2 linked regions of the Homo sapiens genome follow. The protein of the gene in region 1 interacts with the protein of each later gene in a pairwise test. Each region holds a gene or a part of one and is shown on either strand. Other genes may lie near its edges.

Region 1 (3,823 bases):
AATTGACCTATTATTCTTTTCTTTGTATTGTGTGTGGTGCTGGTGTGGGAATCAGGTTCCGTGATTGCAGAGGTCTTCAGTTCTTACTTACAACACAAATGGAAGAGCTAAATAAATGCCAGAAGCTAGTAAGAGAGGCTGTAAAAAACCTGGAGGGACCTCCATCTCGTAATGTTATTGAGTCTGCAACAGTCTGTCACCTCCGACCAGCCAGACTTCCTCTCAACTGGTAGGTAATAGAAGAAATCATACAATGAAATGGTACCATTTCTTTAAGCTAGATTTCTTAGAGAAGAAACAATTGACTCATATAGTAAAGGTTTTTTCATTTTAATTGAGACAGAAGTAGAAAGAGATGTATTAATCTAATTTAAAGAAAAATAAAGTCTCAAGGACAAGGTATGAAAAACCATGTGATTTGTTTTTTCTAAAATGGCATATCTAGTGGAAAGAAAAATGAAGTCAAAATATTAAGCTTCTCCTTAAAATTACCAGATTGCTGGTTATGTTTGTGAATATTTCTGTTAATCTCTTTTTTTTCAGCTGTGTCTTTTGTAAAGCTGATGAATTGTTCACAGAGTATGAATCAAAGCTATTTTCCAACACGTAAGTTCTCTATTTGATTATTACCCATCAAGAAAATGAAACATTTTGCAAGACTCAGTTATGTGATATAAGACTATGTTTTCCCCCACAGTAACCTTTATTATATTGTTTCTTTAATTAAATTGATTAGTACACCTTTGGTATTTGATTGTTTAATATGCCCAGTTTTACCTATCCAGAAGTTATCCCCTAAATGTTCATAGTGTAGTAATATATAATTAATTGAGATGCAGTTTTGTGGAGTGGTAAAATCCCAGACTCTAGAATCCAGTGGATTTGAATTATACAGATTTTGCTAGCATTTTACTGCTATTCAAGGTAGAACTCATAATGTCCGGCATAACTTCTTCAAGAATAAAGAATGACACAATCAAATATGTTATTACTTTAATGAAACCATAAGTAAACATTGTCACAAACACCTGGATTCTCAGAGGGAAGCTTGTTAGAACAATAAATGTGTCCACTTTCATCCAGGTGTATTACTATTCTATTTTAGGTCAAATCTTTTTCTGTTATTACTGAAGTAAATAATACATTTCTTCATGTTTCTGTCCAAATTCTGTTTATTTATCTCCAACAGATATAACTTCTCTAAAATAGAAATTTTCCTCACATATTTCCTTGCCAAACGTTCACTTCTGCATGTCAAGGAAGAAAACAAGATTTTTGTGTTGTTATGGCAAATGAATCAGTAGCTTTCTGTTTATTACAGTGGATATAATAGAATTTAAAAAAAAAAAAACTGGCCAAATTTATGATGTTTTCAGCTTTTTCAAGGTTGCTTTGGTTTTTCCAAAGACTTGCAAACATGTTCTTTTAGAACTCACATTGAAGGTTGCTTTTCACTCACTGATACCAGTTACTGTTGTTTTGTTCTGGTATGTTTTCAGAGTCAAAGGCCAGACTGCAATATTTGAGGAGATGATAGAAGATGAAGAAGGACTGGTGGATGATCGAGCACCTACCACCACCCGGGGTCTCTGGGCAATAAGTGAGACAGAGCGATCTATGAAAGCAATACTATCATTTGCAAAATCACATAGGTTTGATGTTGAATTTGTTGATGAAGGAAGCACTTCAATGGATCTCTTTGAAGCATGGAAGAAGGAATATAAGGTATAGTATTTTAAAACTTCCTTCCAAAATTAAAAATTCTTCTTTTTTACATCAATTTTAACTGCTACTTTTTTCTCTCTCCAGTTTTTTAAAATCTTCTTTTGAGATTGAGGTGGCATAATTTCTCTTTGCCTGAAATGTAACTGTTGTAATAAAGGATAGCAAATACCATAATACTCAAAGACATTCTATTTATTAAATTACTAAAAGAAAATCATTATTAAACTGGAACTTATATGAAACTTTTTGTTTAGCCGTGAAAGTGTGTTCATTCTATTATTAGCTTGATCTTCCACTGCTATTATATGAAATTAGAGTTTTGTTTTTGTTCTGTGAATAACAAGCAAGCATCAGCTACCTTAAAGATTGGGGAACATAGTAAATACTTCTTATCCTATAAGTTTGGAAACCATTCCAATAAATAAAGCCCGATATGCCCTTTCATATTTGTACTTTAATGATTCCATCATATTATACCTCTGTACTTGAGATTTCACAATTCATTAATTTTCAATTATTGTTTTATTTGGATTAGTTATCCATTGTACTGCTTTACAGGTGACATAGGTAGAGGAAGGAAAGAAGTGTTTTTTTATAATGACATTTTTATTCAATTTCTTTTTTAAAAAGTCTTGCTTTTTAAAGTAGGATAAAAATTTTTATGCAGAGAGATAGTTATTTGTACTATCAGTTCATATGTCATAAATTGGGGAATACATTTATAACATCAAAATCATTGGTTTATAATAATGTTTTTCTCACACATTACTCATGTGAATACAAAGCACGTTAACACAGTTAATTACAGTAAGCCTTGGAAGAAGTGTTACTTATGATGTTCAGTTGCCCCTGTATTCTTCCTTTCGACTCAGTTTGGCCACATACCCTTTGTCCAGAAGAGAGCTTACTGTGCAGTTCTCCCAGGTCTTGGTACATATTTTCTGCATAACTTTGCAGACCTTTTCACAGAAGAGCAATTGAATGAGCTCCTGCTGTACATATCTACCAGATCTACCTCAAAATGTAAAGTCAGTGAAGAGAGCCTGTCAAAAAATGTATACTGATTGATACCATTTCTGTGAATTTCAGAAACATATATAACTGAATTATTAAGAATATGTTTCACATAGTATAAGTTCAATGAAAAGTGTAGCAGGATAAGTACAATTCAGAATAGTGGTTGCCCCATGGTTGGGTACTGAAGGAGGAATATGTGAGGAAAGAGTGATACAGTTGAGAAAGAACACACAGAGCCTTTCCAAGGAATTCATATTATTCTTTCTTCAATTAAATGATGAGTACTTGATTGTATATTTTAGTATTCTTGTTGCCATTTATACATAGTTGAATATGTGAAATATGTTATAATAAAACTATTTTTAAAAAATAAAACAAGAGATTCTGTCAGCCTAAAACTGGACTTTATAAAGATTTTTGGTCTTAGCAAGAAATCTTTATATTCTGTTACTGAGAATCTAAAGAGGCAGTGTCCTATAGAGATTTTTTTCATTCACATTTCATCCTAAAAATGACCCCAGGAACTACTTGTACGTTAGACACATAGCGAAAAAGTGTAAGATCTCATTGAAGACTTTTGCTTAAGGCACATCTTGGTGGTTTTAACCAGTTTTAATTACATGCTTTACCACTGTGTTTGTCTTTTCTATTCCTTCAGTTGCTTCATGAATATTGGATGGCTCTGAGGAATCGTGTGTCTGCTGTTGATGAACTTGCAATGGCTACAGAACGACTAAGAGTGCGTGATCCTAGGGAGCCAAAGCCTAATCCGCCTGTTCTTCATATCATTGAACCACATGAGGTAATTGGCAAGTAAATCACAGAAAAGGGAACAGCAAGCAGATGTCACAGATATCTAAGACCCATAGAAAAGGCAGAATCAGGGCACTGAGCTCTACTGTAAGTGTGTATTTAATCTCCATTTTTAATTTGACCCATAGAAAATTGTCTTTATAGACCAAAAATGGTCAAAGATGAGCAATTTCATATCTATTACATGCTTAGTGTTCACTATTTTGGGGCATCTTGTTTCTCTCCAGGTTGCGCATTCATCTGTTTTTGAGTTTAAAACCTTGTATGT
Region 2 (3,823 bases), on another chromosome or scaffold:
TTTTTCATCCTAAGTTGGTAATGGCACATCTTATAGTTGATGGCTTAAATCTGATAAAATTGTTCATCATGTCGTTTATGAATGTACAGTGCTTTGCACTTTATAAAACACTTTCCAATCAGATACTCCATTTGAATCTCAAAGGTCCCCTGAGAATGAGGCCTGCTGCTGCTGTCACCTTTATTTTAACCCTTGCCCAAGGTCATATAGCTAATTAGGGATGTGTTCAAAATTACAACCCAGAACTTTTGCTTCTTGGTGGTGACGTGTGACTTTACCCTGCTGTTGAGCCAGTCTGGGTTAATTGGGAATGGGGCAAGAGTTAGATCGGATTTGATTTCAGAACTATGCTGAAGATGCTGGATGATGGGGATTTTGTACACGGGTAGAGTGTAACTCATAAGAACTGTGTAGCCCCCTTAGCACAGATATTTGCTGCATTAAGCAGAAAAAAGACAGGGAGATAGAAAATGGCAGGTAGCAGGTAAAACCCGGGGTTGGAGCCTGCTTACGGTGAACCAGAAACTGGCTTGGCCCTGAGCGTACAAAGATGAGGTGTACATGGTCCCTGCCTTTGAGGAGCACACAAGTGTGTGGTGTGTGTGAGGGGGAGGGAAAAAGGTGGAGTGGGGCATGTCCGTGTATTAAGTGCTTTTACAGGGTAAGTTTTGGCTGCTCTTCACTGAGAAGGCTCACCCTCAGGGAAACCACTATAGAGAGGGGGGTGTCTGAGCTGAACCTCTAGGAATGAGTAGGAGTTGTCCAGGTGGAAGAAGGACAGGTGAGAGAAGGACCTATTAGCAAGATAGTAGCAGATGCAGAAGCAGGGAGAAGCTGCTTTATTCTCCAGGCTGTGTTTTGAAAGGCCAGCCATGAAGAGGACCATGGAAAATGGAGAAAGAAGAGGGCCTTTACTTTTTAATAAGTAAGGTTTAAATTAATCTCGATAGGGGCCGTTAAGTGGTTCTGTAGAGATTCACAGGAGAATAAGGCTGGGTAGGGTCTCTAGCGTCATCTCTGTGGGAGTAGTTATTTGGATGGTAATGCAGGAGGCATAGTACCACTTTTAGTCTGAGTGAACCTGGGACTTTGACCCTGGGCCGCGATTAGAGGATCCAAGCTGAGTATGTTCATTGGTGGGTGGGACTTTTCCTGGAATCTGGCTTTGGAGGGCTGTGCTTTGCTAGAAGAAACTTAGTAGAGTGAGGAAGGGGAAGATATAATCATGTTGATGCATGCAGGAAGCTAGTATCTGGGTGAAAATCTGTTGGCTTGAGGGAACATATGAGGCGGAGAACCTGAGGGCAAGGGGAAGGGTGGAAGGATTTCAAGTGTGTTGTGGAAGTCTGCTGTAGGCTGCCTGGAGGCTTGGAGAAAAAGGCTGGTGCATTCTAAATGTTGGTCACATCAGTGAGATTGGTAGGTGGATAGGTAGCTGTAGGTAGTGTAGGGATTAATGTTTGGAAGCAGGTAAACCACAGAGTTGAGGCTGGAAAATGTTTCCTTTCCTATCATTCTTTTTTAATAGTAATATAATTTTGAAATATTTTCAAATGCTTACCACCTGTTATGTAATTATCATATTGATTCATTAAAGTAGGTTTTTTGATTACCAGTCTCATTTTGCAGATGAGAAAATGAATTTGGTGAAATAAGGTTACACAACTACCAGGAGGCATTCAAACTTCTGCCTCATTCTTATAGCCTCTTCACCACTCTTTTCTATGCCCACATGCATGAAAAGCTCAAATCGACATTGCTTGTCTGTGTTCTTCCCTGGAATTTAATTCAGCCCACATTCGTGGGGCCCTAGTGGGGTCACAATTGAGGATTCACATGGACAAACGGGCTTCTCAGTCCCACACTGGTGCTGTTCTAGCCCCTTTTTCTCTCTTAAGATGCTACCTTGGGTGTCGTCTCTCCCCAAACCTAACTGGAAAGGACTAAGCCTCTCTAGCAAATCATCTGCCTCTTTCAACAGAGCTCGCTTCCCCAGTCCCTTGTTGTGTTAAGAATGTGATTTATTCTTGTAGAGAGGCAGTTAGGGTCATAAAGTAACAGAGTGGGGAAGTGACAGTCTTGAACTCAGTCATTACCTTTGATCTCACGGCTCCGGTAACGGTGCTATATGTTCTCTGGTGCTGAACCATATAGCTTCTGCGTCCTCTAGGAAAGCTTTCTGGCTCAGGGCTCTGAGGGAACACCTACAATCCTTCCTATCACCTACCTGAGTCAGATGGGTCATCTACATTTTGGCCACTCACAGATAAAAGCATTAATAATCTGTTTATTGTGTTGTGAGAGGAGACAGACCCCAGGATGTTCAGTAGCTGTTTGGTGAATGAACAATGTTTATGGACACAAATAAGCATGCATCACCACTTCATCTTACATATTTGTGTGTCTGCCTCCTCTCCACTTTAAAATAAGCTGCTTGAGGATTGCAGTGATGTCTGCTTGTTGATGGCTGTATTCCCAATGCCCAGAAGAATGCCTGACACATGGTAGGCACTCCAGAAATACTTGCTTGATGAAGAGAGGGAGTAAAATAGTTCACTGCAGCCACAGGATAGCAATCATGGGGGAGCGGGACTGTTTTTACTGCCCCAGAACCTTGAGCCAGTTGTTGCTGGCACAGGTGGCATTGGGCAGTCCTGCCAGCAGAGTGAAGATTGAGGGACTGGGAGTGTAGAGCTGAGGGTTGTGAGATTAACTATGCCAAGGTTAATTGCAGTTGCAACTGCTCTTTCACTTTTCCCTCACACAGACAGGTGGTCTGGAACAGTCCTCTGTTTTCTTCTCTTTTGAGACAGAGTATTTTTTTGTTTGTTTGTTTGGTTTGTTTGTTTTGAGACACAGTCACACTTTGTCACACAAGCTGGAGTGCAGTGGCGCAATCTTGGCTCACTGCAACCTCCACCCCCTGGGTTCAAGTGATTCTCCTGCCTCAGCCTCCCAAGTAGCTGGGATTACAGGTGCCCGCCACCACTCCCGGCTAATTTTTGTATTTTTAATAGAGACGGAGTTTCACCATGTTGGCCAGGCGGTCTTGAACTCCTGACCTCGTGATCCACCTGCCTTGGTCTCCCAAAGTGCTGGGATTACAGGCGTGAGCCACCACGCTCAGCCTTGAGATGGAGTTTTACTCTTGTTGCCCAGGCTGTAGTGCAATGGCCCGATCTCGGCTCACTGCAACCTCCGCCTCCCAGGTTCCAGCGATTCTCCTACCTCAGCCTCCCAAGTAGCTGGGATTACAGGTGCCTGCTGGCACGCCTGGCTAATTTTTGTATTTTTGTGGAGATGGGGTTTCACCATGTTGGCCAGGCTGGTCTTGAACTCCTGACCTCAGGTGATCCGCTGGCCTTGGCCTCCCAAAGTGCTGGGATTACAGGAGTGAACCACTGTGCCCAGCCCTCTGTTTTCTTAATCCATGCCTTTTCTTATGCTGTTTTCTCTACCTGGAGTTTCCAGCCTTTCTGTCTCTGCCTGTTGTAAACCTGTGATTCTAGGATCAATATCAAAATCTACCTTGTGCCATGAAGCAATTTCCAGACTCCTTAACCCTTCCAACCCACACGTATCTGTGATCAGATACAACTCAATTTCATGTATTGAGTTCGGTACTTGTGTACAAAGTGATTACTGTATGCCAGGCAGAAATGCTAGATACTGGTTACAAAGAAAACTGAGATAGGCTCTGCCTTCCAGAGTCTTCCTTCTATCATAGGAAAGAAACTGAAAGAGAAGATGCTAAGGCTCTAATAAAGTAATGAGCAAAGGGCTAATGGGAACATGGAGAAAGGAGTGACCAATCATCTAGAAG

The links.
Region 2: the proteins of SHPRH (region 1) and LPP interact in a two-hybrid assay, tested with the Homo sapiens proteins (one large-scale study listed by IntAct).

What each region holds. Positions count from the first base shown.
Region 1 is NC_000006.12:145,919,069-145,922,891, reverse strand, and holds part of SHPRH (E3 ubiquitin-protein ligase SHPRH), read left to right. Parts: intron 1-55; coding exon 56-229; intron 230-543; coding exon 544-606; intron 607-1,499; coding exon 1,500-1,725; intron 1,726-3,400; coding exon 3,401-3,544; intron 3,545-3,823. UniProt on the Homo sapiens protein: E3 ubiquitin-protein ligase involved in DNA repair.
Region 2 is NC_000003.12:188,157,081-188,160,903, forward strand, and holds part of LPP (lipoma-preferred partner), read left to right. Parts: intron 1-3,823. UniProt on the Homo sapiens protein: May play a structural role at sites of cell adhesion in maintaining cell shape and motility. In addition to these structural functions, it may also be implicated in signaling events and activation of gene transcription.